Homo sapiens: one gene and its partner. The protein of the gene in region 1 interacts with the protein of each later gene in a pairwise test. Each region holds a gene or a part of one and is shown on either strand. Other genes may lie near its edges.

Region 1 (4,294 bases):
GGAGGTTTAACCTTGCAGATTGTGAAGAAAAACGATGTGGCTCTTTCCCTGTTTTTTGTTTGCTTTTTTTTTTTTAAGAAAAATATCATGCTGACTTACTGATATGAATACAGAGATTGTTGTGGACAGGTCTCTTGTGCCTTGTACCAAACTACGAGAAGGATTGTCTTGCTAAACGTTTAAGTAGATTTATAAGATCATCATTTGTAAAGGGGACTGTTCAGAAATGGTGTACTAGAGTTCAGTCACAGAGCTTACCATATACGATCTTATCTAACAACAAAAATGAGCCTTTTTGTCCTTCTTAATCGTGAACCAATTTATTAGGAGTAGAATAAGTTGTTTGCTAAAGACATGACAGGAAATACACTTGAAAGCCTGACCTTTGAAATGACAGTTCATCGATGACCTTTATTTCTTCAGCATTTCTTAAGAATCTTTCTTGTTCAATTCCTGCAACTTAATGTTACTTAAATGCATTTAAGGAATGCCTTTGCGTATATTATCAGAGACTCTTGAAAGCTCTCTTTCTAACTTGAACATAATTTCCATTTCTGGAATCCCTTTCTCTCCCTCAGGGGCTTCCTAGGAGATTTAAGGCGATATTTTTTAACCCAATATCTCTTAAACTTATTAGCCATTTCCAGCTTTTGAGTTGTGATTTGTGGTTGTTGTTTTGCTTTCCTTTTTTTTTTTTTAATTATTTTTTTAAACCTGGTCGATGTCGAGTGTTGTCATATGTTTTTAATAAAAGTGCCTTTCTGTTTCTATTGTCTGCTTGGAGGCTGGGGTATGGCCATTTCTCATTCTCCTGATTCACGGAAGATGTTGATCAGTACTGAAGCCCGGAGCCAGACCGCTAGGTCCTTTGATGCCCAGGCGGCCATGTCAGGGAGTTCCTGCTCAAGCCAGGGTGGCTTAGCCCAGGATAACAGTAGCTTCTGAGATGGGTGACAATTGTTCCACACGTGGCCACAGTCATTCTTCCGGCATAATGGACTTGGGCTCAGGAGGTCTGTCTCTCCTCAGGGATCATGAGCTGAAATTGCTAAACTTTGGGAGTTTTCAGTGACACCCTTCAAAGTGCTCACAGTGTGGCATGGATCAGCTGAGAAGGGCGGATGCGCTTTTGCCCCGTGAGGCATCTATCTGTGTAACTTTCTCCGAGCTGGGCCACAAGGGGCGCTTAGGCCCGCAGACGCCCACTGTGATTGGTTGACGAGATGCCACGCAACGGGACCATCCAGTCACCTTCAACGCAGGTAGGTTTGCTGAGAGGCTCCCTGCGTGACACTTCATCCAATCAGACGTGAAGCTGGCCCGAGACGTGGAGCCATGCTGCGTACCGAAGTGCCCCGGCTTCCCCGGTCCACAACCGCCATTGTCTGGTCGTGCCATCTAATGGCCACTGCCTCCGCCATGGCTGGACCTTCCTCTGAGACGACCTCTGAGGAACAGCTGATCACCCAGGAGCCCAAAGAGGCCAACTCCACTACGTCCCAGAAGCAGAGCAAGCAGAGGAAGCGAGGGCGCCATGGGCCCCGCAGGTGCCACTCCAACTGCCGCGGGGACAGCTTCGCCACCTATTTCCGCCGGGTGCTGAAGCAGGTTCACCAGGGCCTCAGCCTTTCCCGGGAGGCCGTGAGTGTCATGGATTCTTTGGTTCATGACATATTGGACCGCATCGCCACCGAGGCTGGTCACCTGGCCCGCTCCACCAAGCGCCAGACCATCACTGCCTGGGAGACCCGGATGGCTGTGCGCCTGCTGCTGCCGGGGCAGATGGGCAAGCTCGCCGAGTCCGAAGGCACGAAGGCTGTCCTCAGGTACACCAGGAGCAAGTGCGCTCCCTCAGGAGCACCCGAGCACCACGGGAACCCAAAGGGTCTTTTCAGAGCCACTGAATGTGGCCTGAAAGACCAGTGGCTCGCCAAGGGGGACACCACCGGAGGCTGGGGTGGGTGGTGCCCTTCCGACTTGGGGGGCATGTGGCGTGTGGCATCCTGCAATGTTTCAAGCATTTTCCCCTCAGTACTAAACATTGTCAGCTCCAATATATCTGTAGTGCAGTTTGCTCCAAGGAAAAATAGTGGGTGTTTCCGTGATCGTGTTTCATTTCCTCAGTTTCGTAAACGGTCATTTTTGTTAGTTATGTTTCTAGGCTATCTATATGGTGATATTATTACTGCACTGATCTTTACCTTTTTCTGTCTCATTCTCCTGTGACTGGATGGTGGAATTTTCCAGAACTTCACTGTATGCCATACAGCAACAGAGAAAGTGAATACGCTGATACAAGAAGCAAGGTAACCCTCCTAAATGTTTTCAACACCGCTCCCATCACGAATCCATGTAAATAAGCAAATGAGGCCAAGTTACAGTGTACATACAGCTAAATAAAATTTTCAAGAATCCGTTCATTTTCCAGCTTCCTCGACTCTGAGATCACTATTGCAGTTCATTCTTTTTTTGCCATGACGATAATCTTTTCGTTTCTTTTTAAACAGAAACCTTCGTTACTTCCAGGTTTGTGTCAGTAGGCTTAGGGAGTGTCCACAGAAATGGCTCATGCCCTAGTGTTCAGTGGTGTAGCCAATGAGTGACTTGCAGTCTATGAGCAACAGTCATTGTCCCAGTGTGGGGGCAGTGAACCAGGCTGAACCCACAACAGCCTTGCACTGATATGCAGTCTGGTGTTTGGGGGGACAGGGTTGTGATTCTTTACCTGATGTTTTTGTTTTCAGTGTTTGTAATCATGGTCATTTAAGGATATGAATCCAGTGCTAGGAGTAGTATATGTTCCTTGCCCCTAGCATCAAGTTATGCAGAGGATGGTCAGCCTTTAGGAGAAGTCAGATAACGCTTATTTCCTCAAGAGATTTGCATATTAATATTCATGTTAATGTTAATATAGGTTAGCTTTCATTGTGCTTTCTTCTGGGTCCCAAGTCTTTGTATTTTTAGCACTTTTTCCTATGAGTGTATTGTTGAATTTCAGAGCAGCTGCTGACTTTCCCATTGCTTTTCTTTTCAGAGGATCTCCAGCCGCCCGAGTATGTGGACCAGAGAACATACTCTGGGATTGCGACCCATAGGAATTTATTGTATTGTGCCTTGAAGCTCAATATGTGGCCATTTTTGTCAAATGTTTCCCGTGAATTTTGAAACATCTCATAAACAACCTTTCTCCTTCATATGTAGAAACCAGTAAAGGGTGACACTCTCAGTCAAACCATGAAACAAAAGCTGGGAAAATGACAAAAATCAAAATTTTCTTGAGCCCATCAGAAGTGGGAAAGAACCACACCAGATGGCCCAACACATAGCCACATAGATTATTCCACCTTTGGCAGAGGACCGTTTGGTCAAGAGGGAAATGGGGGCATGGCAGGATAGTAGCCAGAGCTTCCCTGAGTAGTGCATTTGGGCAGCGTGGGCAGTTCACCTCCAGAGCTCCACTTGGGCTCCGTAGAGAAAGGATGTAGGGCCAAGAAGTCCCCTCATTGGGATTTGCTACTTTCTGTTTTTGCAGAATATTAGAAAAATGTCATGAAAATAGTTGAAGAGAAATGCTCACTGCACAAGGAGACCAAGAAAAACCCCCCACGAAATCAGCCACAACTAAATCGCTCTGGACGGTGCCGCCAGGTGACCCTACATGTCCGGAGCAACACTTTGAAAACCAAAGACGCTTGGCAGAACCCTGTTCCTTTCCAGAGACAGAGCTGTGTACCTTGTCTAAAACACCGCATCTCACTCAGTGACTTATTTCTCATTATGCTAATTGTTTTCGCTTTAAAGCGCCAGTCTTTCTGTCAAATGGGACATACAAATAAATTTCTAAAATTATCCTTGCATGTCTACTGGGTAATTTGACATGTCTTTTTCAGAAACCGTATCCATTGGGATATTTTACCCTGGAGTGTGTGTTTTCCATTTGTAAATTCAGAAATGAATGAGGAGCATTAGTAAAACAGCGTTAACAATGAACTCTGATTGGGCTGTGGGGAGTGAAGAGTGAGAGTTCAAGGGGACTGATGCCGGTGAGTTATAGGAAGAAAGAGAAAAAGGCTGCTTTGATGTGAAGATGGGCAGAGGAGCTCACACATCTGCTATAGCATTTCAGTGGGTGATTGAGGAGAAGGGGAACCTAGTGAGCAATCGTGATGTCAAGCTGTGGCTTACTGAAAACACAAAGTAAGGGAAATAGCTTTACGGCTTAAACAACAAATAAGAAGTATCAATGTATGGAAAGTAGGATGAATAGGACAAACATAGTCCAATCAATCTTTTC
Region 2 (4,493 bases), on another chromosome or scaffold:
GATCACTCCACTGTACTCCAGCCTGGGTAACAGAGTGAGAACCTGTCTCAAAAATAAATAAATAAATAAATAAATAAATAAATAAATAAAAGAAAAGGAAAAGAAAAACAAAATACAGCATCACCTTTGGGAGGCTGAGGTGGGTGGATTGCCTGAGGTCAGGAGTTCGAGGCCAGCCTGGGCAACATGGCAAAACCCAATCTCTACTAAAAATACAAAAAATTAGCCAGGTGTGGTGATGCATGCCTATAGTCCCAGTTACTCAGGAGGCTAAGCCACAGGAATCTCTTGAACCCAGGAGGCGGAGGTTGTGGTGAGCCAAGATTGCACCAGTACACTCCACCCTGGGTTACAGAGTGAGACTCTGTCTCCACCAAAAACAAAACAAAACACAACAACAACAATAACAAAAATATGGAGTCAAGAGAAAAAGGAAAAAAGAATGAAAGGAACAAAAATATAGAGAAAAATTGCCTAAAAAGACAAAAATCAAGAATTATGGATGTTCAAGTGGGAACTGAGCAAAAACAAGGGGTAGAAAACTTATTCAAAGAAATAATAAGAGAAAACTCTCCAAAACATGAGAAAGAAAAATACCTAGGTACAGGAAGGTCAGAGAACACCAAACAGATTCAACCCAAATAAGAGTACTTTAAAGGATATAATAATCAAATTCTCAAGTCAAGGACAAAGAGATACTCCTAAAAGCAACAAGAGAAAAGCAGCAAATGACATATAAAGAAGCTCCAATTCATCTGGCAACAAACTTCTCAACAGAAACCACACAGGCCAGAAGGGAGTAGGATGACATTTTGAAAGTGCTGAAAGAAAGTAACTGCCATCAAAGACTACTGTATCCAGCAAAGCTATCATTCAAACAGGAGGGATAAAGTCTTTCTCAGACGAACAAAAGCAGAGAGAATTCAACACCAAACCCATCCTATAAAAAATGCTAAACGGAATTCTTTTTTTTTTTTCTTTTGAGACAGAGACTCAGTCTGTCACCCAGGTTGGAGTGCAATGGCATGATCTCAGCTCACTGCAACCTCCACCTTCCAGGTTCAAGTAATTCTCCTGCCTCAGCCTCCCAAGTAGCTGAGATTACAGACACGCACCACCATGCCTAGCTAATTTTTGTATTTTAATAGAGACGAGGTTTCACCATGTTGGCCAGGCTGGTCTCAAACTCTTGACCTCAAGTGATCTGACCACCTCAGCCTCCCAAAGTGCTGGGATTACAGGTATGAGCCACCGTGCCACATCGGGAATTCTTCGATAAGAAAAACCACCATCACCACCGCCACCACCATGCAAAAAGAAAACATTTGAGGTATAAAACCCACTGTAAGTACACAGAAAAATCCAGAATGCCCTAATACTTGTAAAGGTGGTGTGAAACCCACTTATAACTCTAGTATAAAGCCTAAAAGACAAATCAAAAACTTTAATAGCTACAGTAATCGTCAAGAGTTAGGCAATATAAAAATATATTAATTGAGACAATATAAAGTCAAAATGTGGTGGGGGGATAAAGTTTGTTTCTATTGTGTTTTCGTGCTCTGTAAGTTTTCATCTCTTTACAACTTGTTACATCTATAAAGATGTTTTTTTTTGTAAGCCTCATGGTGTCCACAGTACAAAAGAACTATGAAAAAGGGCGTCGGATTTGCTCCACCCCCCCCACCCCCACCACACCCACCACCCCCCACCCACCACTCCCCGCGGAGCTCTAGGCCGGCATCTCTCCGCGAGCCGCGGGTCAAGTGCCGGCGGCTAATGGTGCGCGAGGAGCCGCCACCCATTCGGCGTTGGCTCTGGCGTCGGGGTCGTTGTGACAACCGCTCCAGTAGCCGTTTCCGAGGCAGCAGGTGCGGCCGCTTTAGCCCTGAGCGGGCTCTGCGGCTGCCTGCGAGTCTCTGCTGTGCCGACCCTTCTCTTCGCGGACCCCACGCCAAGCAGCGACCCTGAGGCGACAGCCGGAGCGCCCGGCAATGGCGGCCTCGACGGCCTCCCACCGGCCCATCAAGGGGATCTTGAAGAACAAGACCTCTACGACTTCCTCTATGGTGGCGTCGGCCGAACAGCCCCGCAGGAGTGTCGACGAGGAGCTGAGCAAAAAATCCCAGAAGTGGGATGAAATTAACATCTTGGCGACCTATCATCCAGCAGACAAAGGCTATGGTTTAATGAAAATAGATGAACCAAGCCCTCCTTACCATAGTATGATGGGTGATGATGAAGATGCGTGTAGGGACACCGAGACCACTGAAGCCATGGCGCCAGACATCCTAGCCAAGAAATTAGCTGCTGCTGAAGGCTTGGAGCCAAAGTACCGGATTCAGGAACAAGAAAGCAGTGGAGAGGAGGATAGTGACCTCTCACCTGAAGAACGAGAAAAAAAGCGACAATTTGAAATGAGAAGGAAGCTTCACTACAATGAAGGACTCAATATCAAACTAGCCAGACAATTAATTTCAAAAGACCTACATGATGATGATGAAGATGAAGAAATGTTAGAGACTGCAGATGGAGAAAGCATGAATACGGAAGAATCAAATCAAGGATCTACTCCAAGTGACCAACAGCAAAACAAATTACGAAGTTCATAGAAGAGATTTGTTCAACACTGCAATTGTTTGTTAGATATAAACCCTGTGACTATAATACATTGCTTCTTGTTCTCCACAATTCATGACTTAAGTACCAAAATGCATACCAGTTATTATATATTGCCAAGAATTAAATGATAAACTTAGAGACTAATTAGACTGAAAATGCCTAATTGATATATATATTCTTATGCCTAGTACTTTACCACAAATACAGTGTAATATCATCAGTCCAAAACTGCATTACTTTCATAAGAACACTGGTTAATTTGTATAAGATATTATAGAGCTTTTTATGCTTTAGAAGTTAAGCAATATCTTTGGGGGGGAACTAATTTATTTTCATCACTCGAAATGTGGTAGCTCTTACAAAGTTTGTTGATTTGTTTTTTTAAAAATCAAAAGCCAGTTGAACAACAGGATATATAGACTTATAAATATTCAAGCTGAATCGTATTTTAACACTTCTCTTCAACTTGATTTGTCTGTTTAATTGAAAAGAATTGTAAGAGTTACTGTTGCATTTTCTGACCTACTACCTTTAAAATTCCTGTTGAGTTTCTTTGTGTTTACAAGGAAAGGACTGAACTTTTTCTCATCAAAACTAGCTTTTTTCCCCACAAATAAATTATCAGGTTAAACTTTCACCAATGTCTGCTCTGTTTTTTGGCAGGGGGTTTGTTTGTTTTTGTTTTTTAATGTTTTTGGTACACTGGGCAGACTTCAGAGCAGTTTTTTAAAAAATAAATATTCTAATGTAGCTATCTCGCCATTCCCTTTAAATACCTGTCTTAACCTCCTGCTTTTATTTCCTACTCCTTTCCACACATACACACACAATCTTTTACCTTTTAAAGGATCATTAAGATTGTCACGACATTAGGAACTCTTTCTGTCACTCTTCTGTCATTTGCTGCTGTGTGGAAATTCTTATTTTGACCATCAATGCCTATGAATTCTTCTAATACATGAAGAAAATAGATTGAGTAGCAGCAGTACTATAGGCAGGAAATACAGTTTAACTGCTGAATTTCTATGCCTCTCGATTTACAGATTGCTAATTAAATTGCTATTATTAGTTTGGCTTAATTAGACTTAAGAAAACAACCGAGGGTTTTTTTTTGTTTTTTGAGGGTTTTCTTTGCATGAGAATTGTATGTAACCAGTGATATGATTATTCCTGAATGTACAGACAGAAGTAAGCCTGGACATTTTTTAATTTAAAAACTTTAAATAGTCCCTGCTTTAAGGGAATATGATAATGTATACTATGACAAATGTACTTTATTCCTCTAACGCAGTAAGAATTATGTGGAATATTTTCCTTAAACGAAGTGCAGGAAAGCCCTGTGTGTCTTGGTTTGGTTATGGTTTCATTTCTAGCCATACAATTGATGAATCGTATACAATTTTCGTTAGTACCAAAATAATCTGTTATATGAACAGACTTCTAAAATAATGTCTGTATAATATATATTTATATATATAAAATAAGGCTTTTATTGAACAGCTTATCTTCCACTTGCAGGTTTATAGAAATATCAGTATTTCAAAATAAATAAAAAGTGGGAGAATTCTTTGCTGTTAGAAGAATGTGGTTATTATTTTGATTTTTTTAAATGAGATATATAATCAAAGTACTGCTGAACTATAAGTGCAGTATTCTAAACATTTCATCTAGTAATACCACTGATTTAGAAACAAAACTGTTTATCTCTGGTTTCTGAATTTAGAATTTTGGGATTACCTGTTTAAATCTGTCTTGGGGGATGTAGAGATTAAGTCTGTACATATGTGTGCACATATATTCATGCAACCTCTGATTTTGGTTTTCTTGTTTCTGAGTTCTTAGAAAGTGTCCACATACTCTTTTTTGTAGAAGTA

Evidence for each region.
Region 2: the proteins of H2BW1 (region 1) and PPP1R2B interact in binary tests that used the Homo sapiens proteins (3 or more experiments, as listed by UniProt).

What each region holds. Positions count from the first base shown.
Region 1 is NC_000023.11:104,010,702-104,014,995, reverse strand, and holds H2BW1 (histone H2B type W-T), read left to right. Parts: upstream 1-1,287; 5' UTR 1,288-1,419; coding exon 1,420-1,826; intron 1,827-2,247; coding exon 2,248-2,284; 3' UTR 2,285-2,306; intron 2,307-3,532; 3' UTR 3,533-3,849; downstream 3,850-4,294. UniProt on the Homo sapiens protein: Atypical histone H2B that can form nucleosomes structurally and dynamically indistinguishable from those containing conventional H2B.
Region 2 is NC_000005.10:156,848,572-156,853,064, forward strand, and holds PPP1R2B (protein phosphatase inhibitor 2 family member B), read left to right. Parts: upstream 1-1,723; 5' UTR 1,724-1,991; coding exon 1,992-2,609; 3' UTR 2,610-3,957; downstream 3,958-4,493. UniProt on the Homo sapiens protein: Inhibitor of protein-phosphatase 1.